Linked DNA regions of Homo sapiens. The protein of the gene in region 1 interacts with the protein of each later gene in a pairwise test. Each region holds a gene or a part of one and is shown in the gene's direction. Other genes may lie near its edges.

Evidence for each region.
Region 2: the proteins of CLEC7A (region 1) and TLCD4 interact in binary tests that used the Homo sapiens proteins (3 or more experiments, as listed by UniProt).
Region 3: the proteins of CLEC7A (region 1) and C14orf180 interact in binary tests that used the Homo sapiens proteins (3 or more experiments, as listed by UniProt).

The regions. Positions count from the first base shown.
Region 1 is NC_000012.12:10,128,377-10,132,127, reverse strand, and holds the start of CLEC7A (C-type lectin domain family 7 member A), read left to right. Parts: upstream 1-1,928; 5' UTR 1,929-2,045; coding exon 2,046-2,148; intron 2,149-3,751.
Region 2 is NC_000001.11:95,141,263-95,145,013, forward strand, and holds part of TLCD4 (TLC domain-containing protein 4), read left to right. Parts: intron 1-2,628; 5' UTR 2,629-2,639; coding exon 2,640-2,794; intron 2,795-3,751. Other genes in the region: TLCD4-RWDD3 (TMEM56-RWDD3 protein), read left to right, coding at 2,640-2,794.
Region 3 is NC_000014.9:104,577,706-104,581,456, forward strand, and holds the start of C14orf180 (nutritionally-regulated adipose and cardiac enriched protein homolog), read left to right. Parts: upstream 1-2,058; 5' UTR 2,059-2,298; intron 2,299-3,554; exon of another isoform or gene 3,555-3,751.

The DNA.
Region 1 (3,751 bases):
CCAGGAGGCAGAGCTTGCAGTGAGCCGAAATCGCGCCACTGCACTCCAGCGTGGGCAACAGAGCGAGACTCTGTCTCAAAACAACAACAACAACAAAAAACTTGGTAACAGATAGGCTCCTGAATTCCTTTTAGAGCAGTTACTTTAGAAATCTTACAGTTAGGCCAGGTGCAGTGGCTCACGCCTGTAATCCCAGCACTTTGGGAGGCCGAGGCAGGCGGATCACCAGAGGTCAGGGGTTCAAGACCAGCCTGACCAACATGGAGAAATGCTGTCTCTACTAAAAATACAAAATTAGCCTGGCGTGGTGGCACATGCCTGTAATCCCAGCTTACTCAGGAGGCTGAGGCAGGAGAATCGCTTGAACCCGGGAGGCGGAGGTTGTGGTGAGCCGAGATCGTGCCATTTGCACACCAGCCTGGGCAACAAGAGCGAAATTTCGTCTAAAAAAAAAAAAAGAAAGAAAAGAAAAATAAATCTTACAGTTAAATTCTTTCTCTGCCCTTTGAGAAGCAAATCTACCACACAGAACTGTTTCTTCAAGGACTTGGGAGCTGTTTCTTTGAAATGCAAACATTCAGGGAGATAAATCTTGCTCTTTCTTTCAGATGCAGCATAAGGACCAACTTAGCTGGGTGCTTCACTTCAACTATCACCATGTCCTTCTGTCATATAGATAGGCAAAGTTTCTCTGTCCTCTGGATAAGGGCCAATTAACAAATCCAGAGAGTCTAGTCACATTAACTTTCCTTAACACCACTCAGTATCTTTTCCTTAGCAAACTCCACTTTAAAATGTCATCAGCTTTACTTTTGGGGAAGTTGAGTTCAGTTAATGCTGCACTGGTTCCTGTTGCAATAGTATTACTGAATAAAACCTGTCCTCACCACATTAACTAGTATCCAGATTTGTTGATCCTTGACAACACTCAGATGTCTCCTGCACTCTACTGGCTTCAAGGTCGGATAAATGAGTTGAACACCTCTTCAGTTTCCAGCAATGTTAGGTGTTTTCTATATTTCTTTGATTTGATCATTACTATGGAAACTGGAAGAGAGGGAAAAAAAATCAAACATCTAACATAATATTTCAGTCCCAACACCTTCCATAAGCTGTTCCTTGCAATATAAGTGTATGGAATGATGAAAGAGGCAGTGTAGCGTAACAGAAAAGACCACGAGTTTTGCAGCAAGAGTCAGCTTTGATTTGATTCCTTGCTCTAAATTTTTAAAATTAGCTTCTTAAACCTGAGAAAGAGGCTAAATTTTCTGTCTCATTTTTTCATTTGAAAATAGAAATAATAATGCCTACTATATAGACTTGGAAAAGTGAGATTGAACAAGAAAATATGTACAACATGTGGTACTTAGCTCATAGTAATTGTTCAATAAATGTTATTTTGTGTTAATATCTGATAATTCCCAAAGAGATTTGTTTTCTCTGTCTGTTGTTACAACAATGCATCTCCTCATGCCATCCCTCATTTACCTATCTATATATTTCCTTTATTAAGCAATGAGTTTCTTCATAGGTATCATTTTTCCTTGTATTGTAAGCTCCTACCAATTGAAAAGGTGGGCATCCAGTACCTGTTTATGTAATTTAAAAAATACATGAATAAATACATGAACAAAGTTATGGTAAACTTGGAGCACCAAAACTGAAATAGTTTGCATCGGTTAAATTAATTAATGTCAGACTTAGTTGTGAGAGTAATGAAGGCAGCATAAGACATTAATGTATGCATTTTTCTTACATTTGGTCTGAAACAAAGACTCATCTGCTATGCTGCCTTTTAGTTTTCCTGAGTCAGCAGTCTCAGAAACAGGATCTAAAGGTACAAATGGAAAATTACCACAGCATAGTTTCATTTCCTGCTCTTGAATATCTGGTTGAACTACTTAAGCTTAATTTGTTAAACTCCGGTAAGTACCTAGCCCACATGATTTGACTCAGAGATTCTCTTTTGTCCACAGACAGTCATCTCAGGAGCAGAAAGAAAAGAGCTCCCAAATGCTATATCTATTCAGGGGCTCTCAAGAACAATGGAATATCATCCTGATTTAGAAAATTTGGATGAAGATGGATATACTCAATTACACTTCGACTCTCAAAGCAATACCAGGATAGCTGTTGTTTCAGAGAAAGGTATATATATGTTTTTTCTAATGTGTGCCTTTAGCTCTCCCGTTTGAAAAGATATAAGGGGAGGCTAGGCATGGTGGCTCACACCTGTAATCCCAGCACTTTGGGAGGCCGAGGCGGGTGGATTGACTGAGGTCAGGAGTTCGAGGCCAGCTTGGCTAACGTGGTGAAACTCTGTCTCTACTAAAAATACAAAAATTAGCCGGGCATGGTGGTGCACGCCTGTAGTTCCAGGTACTTGGGAGGCTGAGGCAGGAGAATCACTTGAACCTGGGAGGTGGAGGTTGCAGTGAGCCAAGATCATGCCAATGCACTCCAGCCTGGGTGGCAGAGCAAGACTCCATCTCTGAAAAAAAATAAAAATAAAAACAAAACAAAAAGATATAAGGGGAGAAAATTTGAGAGCCTCGTGATGTGTATATTTTTATGGATATACTTTTAAAGGCTTCAGATGTCACTGAAGATAAATTGAATGCACCCTAAACCTTTTTTCATGAAAATTATTCAGTGACCAATTATTAGTGTTTAAATTAATTATGTCTGATGGCAGAAAATAGAATTTCTCTTTTCTATAGATATAGACATTTCATCAGTGAGGAATTGGTAATAAGTGGGATAATACACAAAGATAAAGGATTTCTGTATGAGTGACTTGTTGCTTGTTTGATAGAAAGGCTAGATTATCGAATGGAGGCCAGGAAACTTAAAGAAGTATATATATGAACAACATTTTTTTTTTGTGGTAAGAGATTAATTTAAATTGTTTTTAAACAAAAAACAATTATTGGTATACCAGTGATGGAAAATATATGAACATATGGTAGATAAAAACATCCCACCAGCAGGACATGAGTCTTAAACAAAGTGTAAATGAAATGAAATAGAAAGAAGGGCATTGGAGGATCTCTGTATTCATAGAATGGGTGATTTAGCCTACTCTACGATTCTCCTATGTGACAATTCTATGAAATGTCCTGACAGCTTAGTCACAGTGGAAAGCAGAAATACATTCTGGTTATGGCAATGTTCATACAAAATTAGTTCCCTATTATCTTTGAGAGAGAGAGATCATTTGTCGGTTTTGACACCAGAGTTTGCTTTCTTCTGCTTTCTGGTTATTCACACTGCACAAATATTTTCCTCTCAGCACTGATGTAATTCTTTTCTTGGGCAACCTATTGAGGAAGCGTGGAAAAAGTGGATGAGGCAAGAGGTAGGGAGACATGCGCATGTTTATGCATATGTGTAGGCAAACGGTATCCTGCAACAACACACCTATCATGTGCTAGCAGTCTCTAAACAAGGTGCTTTTATATGTGTTAGCTCGTTTAATTCCCGCAATAATCCTTTGAGATATTATTACCCCAGTTTCACAAAGAGGAATAAAAAACAACAAAGGGAGTAATTTGCCCAGGGTCATGCAACAAACATATGAAAAGGGAAAATTACCCTTAGTAATCAGTGCTATCTCCCCAACATTAAGCTATTTCCTCTAAGAATCAGTGGGATTTCAGGGATCCTACTAATGTCAAGACCTGTAGATGTCAATGTGGAACTGAAATTAGGAGCATACAGTTATCAAGCCAATGTGCCGAAATTACAATTC
Region 2 (3,751 bases), on another chromosome or scaffold:
TTTGAGTGCTTTTAAATACAGTAGTTAAATGAACAATTCATAAAATGGATAAGGTATGATATGTTTTATGACACCTTTTAACATTCATGAAATAAATGCTTTGTATACATTGAATTTTAACAAACTAAATGAGCAGCCCGTGCCCACCTTCTGCTCTAGGATCAGCAGAGAGCATACGAAAGTCTTCAGGGGAAACCTCCTCACATTTAAGATTAGATTCTCCATTCTCTTCTGATTACTGATTATATTTTTTTTCCAATTTTGTGTCCATCTGGCCTCCAGATACCTATTTGCTTTAATCTTAGAAAAGCATTATTCTCCTTACATCCCACTTAGCAAATTATGGTAATGCTTAATTTATGTACAAAACTTTTATGTATTGTTTGGTTAATATTAAACCTAGGCTAAAAGACCACAAATTAAAATTTTAATACCCAATAAACATATGTTGAATTAAAAAGAAGTAAAAGAGCAGTAAAGTTAATGGAGTCTCATAGAGAAGAATTGTAATATCAATATTTTTACCAAGTACACACACACACACACACACACACACACACACACACACACAAAGAATGAGGAAAGAATTCATTATAGACATATGAATTCTGATGGAAGGGGCCCTGTGGGAGATTGATTCTTATTACGATATCCTGGTTGGAAGGGAATGAAGTGGGGTTATTGCTAGTGCAGTCAATGACTTGGCTTTTCTCTGGTGAATTGATTTCAGTAGGTGACTTTATTTCTTTGCATTAGGCAGCTGGAAATGTGTATTGATTTATTTCTTTTTCATTTGAGAATCAGCTTTATCAAAGATGGAGCCATAGAAATGCTGTATTTGCTGGATATGAGCAAATGCCTTAGTGCCTTTTTTTTTTTTTTTTTGCTCTGAATGTTCCTAAGATTTTTAGGAGCCAAATAAAGTTCAGCTCAATGAAATAGAAAACACACTTTGAGTGTGCATATATGCATAGTACTATTCTTTCTGCTAACTCGATTGTTAAGACCTGAAGCTCTTTTATAAAAATCTTTTTTTTTTTTTTTTTTTTTAATAAGGGATACAAAGCCCTGCAGGCCTTTTGCTCCAAGAATGTGTGTGATTGAAGAGCATGTTTTAAAAGTTAAATTCTCATTTGTGCAGTGACGGTGTTAGCGGTGGAGGGTGTTCAGGTTCTTGGCATTTTGAACAAAGAATTAGACAAAATGCACAAAGCAAGGAAGGAATGAAGCAATGAAAGTAGCGATTTATTAAAAATGAAAGTACACTCCACAGGGTGGGAGTTGGTCCTACCATAGGGGCTCAAGAGCCCGGTTACAGAATTTTCTAGGGCTTAAATACCTGCTACAGGTTTCCCATTGGCCACTTGTTGTACACCCCATGCAAATGAAGTAGTGGCCCACAATCTAGGCCGGTTGTGGTGCCTCACGCCTGTAATCCCAGCACTTTAGGAGGCTGAGGTGGGCAGATCACGAGGTCAGGAGTTCAAGACCAGTCTGGCCAACATGGTGAAACCCCGTCTCTACTAAAAATACAAAAATTAACCGAGTGTGGTGGTGCGTGCCTGTAATCCCAGCCGCTCGCGATGATGAGGCAGCAGAATTGCTTGAATCCGGGAGGCGGAGGTTGCAGTGAGCTGAGATCTATCGCACCACTGCACTCTAGCCTGGGGGACACAGCAAGACTCCATCTGGAGGCGGGGTTGGGGGCGTGGCGGAGGGGAGGGGAAGTTACACTTCTGTGCAAAGGAAGACTTGGCTGGCAGTCAGTCAGATTGGTTGGGGAAAGCAACCAATCAGAGGCTGAAATGAAGTTATAAAGTTATACTCCTATGTAAACGTCTGATTGGTTGCGGAAAGCAACCAATCAGAGGTACTTTCAGTTTTCCATTTGCCACTCAGAAAAGTGAGGGAGGGGTTTTCAAAGCGAGTAACCTCCAGTTATTTTGTTAGTTAGGTGTGTAAAGTTGGGCTTTTCTGTTTGATTTAGTTCTAGGAAGTCAGTATGAATCGGCCTTAGGTTCCCTGCCTCCAGACCCTATTGTCTTGCCTCAACAGTGCAATGGCTCTTTGCTAAGACTGTGTTCTTCTTAAGATTTTAATTTTGTTTTAAATGTTGTTTGTCCTGCTCCAAAATTAGTTTTTTAATTATGGAATTATTTTTTGTTTTGTTATTACAGGCAGTGTTAGTTCTATGGTTTTTGGCTTGATTGTTTCTTAGAAATTATGTAACCAACTCTTTCATATCATAGATGAGAAATTGAGGGATAAAGAAATCGATTTGTCATAAATTTAATTGAAATATTATTAGAAGAATAGTTTTTACTTATAGTACTTGAAATTCTCTGTTAATATTAAGACTTAGATAATTTTGAATATCATGATGTTAAAATTATAAATGACACCTCTAATATTGAGATCTTTAAGATAAAACAGACATAAGATACATGACAAATAGATGGTAAAGGTGAAGAAATATACAAAAGGTCAAAAATTCTTATAGTTTATATTCTTAACATTTGTTCTAAATTTTAAAAATTACTAAAATTACAAGACATATTTCTTAAAATAAAAAAATTACTCTAGGTTTATTATGAGACAACAATTTATAGCTGTCATTTATCTTAACAGGTTGAAGAAATATGGAGATCAACACAAAACTGCTCATCAGTGTTACCTGTATCAGCTTTTTCACCTTTCAGCTTCTTTTCTACTTTGTAAGTTACTGGTTTTCAGCAAAAGTTTCTCCAGGTTTCAATAGTCTCAGCTTCAAAAAGAAGATTGAATGGAACTCAAGGTAAAGCATATGAAAATGTAATTGATGACAAGAAACTAGTTTATGAGATAAAATTATTTAAAATATTTCAAAAAAGTATTTCATTTAGGATCTAATGTAAGGCCAAATTTTTATTTGATCTTAGAAATAAAAGGAAAAACAAGTAGATGATCTCATGCAAAAAAAAGTTTAAGAATTCATATATTGAAAGATGTTAGGAGAAATTTACTTAAGTTTCTGAGGAAGTGTGTGAAGATGAAGTAGACTCCAGCTGACTGTGGATGAATACTAGTACTTTCGTGTTCTTCTTTGAAATATTTATAACAAACATATTCTTTGGAAACAAAGATGGAAGAAAAAATTAGTTGTACTTTTGAGTAGCTTATACCATACAGCATTGGCCAACTTAGCCAGACCTGGGGCAGTTAGACTCTACACATCAGGGAACAAAGTGTACAGTCAGTGCATATGAATCTTTTAATGAACTTTGCATTATAATTTAGAGCCCTCCAGCATTTATTATTTTGTTATATAATTTTAAAGTAAAAATTTCTTTTTAGTTTTTTTTTTTTAAACAGAAAAGTAAATGGAGAAAGAATTAGACATCTATTGATATAGAAATCTGCTGGAGTTTTATTTTTTATTTTTATTTTATTTGTTTATTTATTTTTTTGAGACAGAGTCCCGTTCTGTCGCCCAGGCTGGAGTGCAGTGGTGAAATCTTGGCTCGCTGCAACCTCTGCCTCCCAGGTTCCAGTGATTCTCCTGCCTCAGCTTCCTGAGTAGCTGGGATTACAGGCATGCGCCACCATGCCAAGCTAATTTTTGTGTTTTTAGTAGAGACAGGGTTTCACTAGGTTGGCCAGGCTGGTCTTGAACTCCTGACCTCAGGTGATCCACCCACCTTGCCCTCCCAAAGTGCTGGGATTACAGGCATGAGCCACTGCACCCTGCCAGAGTTTTAAAAAGTTGGTTGCA
Region 3 (3,751 bases), on another chromosome or scaffold:
GACAGCTGGCCTTAGTTGCTGTGTTCCCGGGGCACTGCTCAGGGTGGGTGCACCACAAAGATCTGGGGAGGGTGGGGCATCCGATCATTCCCAGCTCCCGGGGAGAGATGAGGGTGTGGCGGAGGTCACCTGGCTGAACAGTGACAGAGCTGGGCCCAAACCTGGGCACCACGTCATTGGCACCACTGCCCGTGGGCACATGTGCCCACCTGCCGGCTGCAGGCAGGCCTGACACAACTGGGCTCTTCCCTGGCACTGCCTGGCACAGGCACTGGGGACCCTCCGCGGACCCGGCAGCTCAGCACTCCCCTGGGCCAGCCTTATCTTGCCCTGCAGAGCCCAGGCTGGAGTGAGGCGCAATGGACGGAGGCGAGGAGGGTGCAGCCGAGCCCTATCAGATACGGCCGGAAATATGACCCCGCTGGGACCTGAGCCCTGAGCCGAGCCATCAGCTCACTAATAAATTACCCAGAGCGAATGTCCACAGGGTCAGCCCGCATCGCCTTTCCAGGGAGCACAGAGAGGGGGCGGCACCCAAGGTCTGTGGGCTGACCGTTCCCTCCCCTCTGTCAATGAGAAGGGTCAGGAAGGAGTTGTCCCGGAGCCCCCCGACCTCGGGCAGTGCAGCCTGACCTCTGAAATCTGGGAGGAGCAGCTCCAGCCCTGGGAAGCCAAGGATAAGCGCCCAGATTGGGCACAGGCGGGAGAGGGTCTTGTCTGGCTACAGGACCTCACTCTTCCCAGGAAGCCAGACTGCCAGCAGGACCACCCAGCCTTCCTCAGTGCTCTCCCTGGAACAAGCGTCAGCGAGCCAAGGCCCTCCTGCCAATCTGGCCCACCCCGTTTGTGTAGACACAGAGCGCACTGTGTGCCATATGGCCCTGTAAGAGAAAAGTTTGCTCCCCCATGCCCTGTACTGAAGACGGCAGTGAGGGGAGGGCCGGTCTGCTGAACCCCATCCCAGTGGCTGCGTTGCTCATGCTCTGACGGTGGGTTCCAGGACTCTGTGTCCATGCAGCCCCACGGCTGGCCCTGAGCAGTCACCCTCTGTGCACACTGTCCCCCAGCCTGGCACACCCTGGGCTCCCAGGGGTCCTGTAGCTTTACCCAAGGGAGATGCACCCCCATTCCTAATGGAGAAACACGGGTCTCTCCACACCTCCTCCAGCAGTCCCCTGAAACAGGTCAAAGCCCCACAAACCAGGCAGGGGTCTGCCCACATGTGGTGGTGCCCTGCGCCAGTGATGCCCTCACCAGCCTCTTTCAGACCTGCCTTTACATGCACCAGCAGACGGGGGGGCTGGCGAGGACGGGCCACCAAGCCTGAGCCAGGCTACCACCTCCGGGCTGTGTGACTCTGGACAGGGTGCCTCAACTCTCTGAGCTGCACTTTCACCTACAAATGAGGGGCAGACTCAGCAGCGCCAGGCAGGGCAGTTGGACGCCCACCCAGGACAGACCCTGAGAAAGGCTGATCCCTCACCCCTGCCATCGCTCACTGACCCATACATTGCCCCTTCCTGCCAGGGCAATATCGAGGGTCGGCCAGTGTGCCCCAAAACGGCAGCTTGGGACCCATTCTTTGCCTCTCCCTCTGGCAACCCCAGGTCAGGACTCACAGGGGCACAGGGGCCTGGGGCAGGGCGGGCACTCTCGCCACCACGGAGGCCCCATGCTGGGTCAGGGTCTTATTGGAGGCTGGACTCTGTGATCACCTCACCTCCCGCAGCCCCACAGTGCCCTCCCTCTCCCACTCTGCCCCGAATTCCAATCCATAGGTTTTTCCAAGAGCTGCACAGCTCTGGAATTGACCTGGGAGGGGGCACATTTGGGCCGGGAGGGGTAGGAACAGCAGCAAACTCTGGTCTTATCTGAAATCATGGTCTGTTGTCCACCGGGGGCCTGGGAAACAGCCACCCCCTTCTGCTCCGGGGCCAGCGGCCTGTCCTCGGGTTCACTGCTATTTCTGCCAAAGGGGAGAGGTAATTATAGCCTGGCCGCTGCCAGCTGGCCCAGCTTTGCGATCCAGCAGAGAGGGCTGGAGACGGGACGAAGGCCACAACAGACCCGGCCCTGCCAGCGGGCGGTGGCGCCTCCAGATCAGAGCCCTCGGGAAGGAGGCCTGGGCGGGCCTGGCCCGTTCACCTGTGTGCCCTGCAGTTCTGCCCGAGGCTCAACTCTCAAGGGCCTGGGAGGGGTGCTGCCGGCCAAGAGGGTCCAGGACCTCACTGGACTGTGCCCCACAGGGAGATCCCGAAGAGCCTGTTTCTGTCCCTCGGGGAGCCAGGAGGGAACCAGGTGAGTTCCAGCCCCAGGGAGAGGGGGCTCACTTCCTGCTTGGGTATGAAGATGCCAGAGCGGAGAGATTGCCAAAGGCAGGTGCAGGTGGGGAACCTGCCCCAGCTGGGCAGCAGGTGTGGGCAGAGACTGGGCAGAGCGGAGAGATTGCCAAAGGCAGGTGCAGGTGGGGAACCTGCCCCAGCTGGGCAGCAGGTGTGGGCAGAGACTGGGCAGAGCACACACTGATGATCCTGAGTGACCTGAACAAGCTCCAGAGTGGCCACCCTTCCCCCTTCTCCTGGGACTGATGGTTTCCCTAAAACGGAGACAGTCCCAGGCCGGCCCTGTGTCCACACTGAGGCCAGGCCGCCTCTGGGGGAAGCAGGGAACACGGCCACTTCAAACTTAGCAGCGGGGGTGCTCCTGGCCACACAGGAGCTTCCAAAGGGCACCTGATGTTGCGCGAAACAGCCTGGGCAGTGGGAGAAGGGGCTGCACTCTCAGGGGAATGCAGGCAGCCGTGCCAGGCATGAACCCAGCCAGCCTTCCCTGAAGGGCCTTGGTGGGGGGCATCCTCCGAGGGCAAGTCTACGCAGGCCCAGCCTAGCAGGAATGGATTCGTTACTCCAGTAACTGAAGCCTAGTTCTCAGTGTTTGGGAATCCCTGAGAACTGGCTCTTTTCTGAGCCGTCAGTCAGAAGGAATCCCTGTCCTGCCCTGTGTGGCCATGGGACCCCCACCCAGCACTGGACGCCACGCCATTTCTTGGGCACTACTGAGCTTTGCAGTGCCCTGGACAGTTGGCAAACAGCCCCCATTCCACATATGGGAGGAAGGGCCTGGGGGGGTCCCCCGCCCTGTCTGTCTGGAGCTCTCGAGGCCTAGGGTGGCCCCTGCACCCAGCAGATGAGCAGCCATCACCCGGTACTGCTGCTACCTCGAGCCCTAACTGCACCTCGGGATGTGAGGGCCCATCTAGGCATGGAGAGGGGCCTCAGGGGGCCACCAGGCAGCTCCTGCTCCTGTTCCTACCTGGTAGGGCCTGCAGGCACCTGAGCAAGCCCAGTGGGCGGTCAGCCCAGCCAGGGGCCTCCCCACAAGTTCTCCCTCTTACTTAAGTCGAGAACGCATGTTGTCTGGGGAGCTGCCAGCGTGGTTCCAGTGGTGAGCGTTGGGCTGGGAGCCAAGGCTTTTCCCAGGAGCCCAGCCACCCCGCCTGGCTGTGTTCTGCCTCCGCCCTGCAGAGGAAAGGCCAGCGAGGCAGTGTCCATGGTCCCAGTCTTCTTCCACCGGAAGAAGGCACAACCTGCATCTGCAGCCCCAGGGCCATTGGGTTAGGCCTGTGGCCAAACTACTAAGGTGCTGGGAGACTGAGGAGGCCCAGCTCCTCCTGGGGCCACCAAGCCCGTGGTTGACGGCCTCCCCATGGACCGGGCTGTCCCGAGAGCAGCAAGTCAGCCGGGGCCCTCAG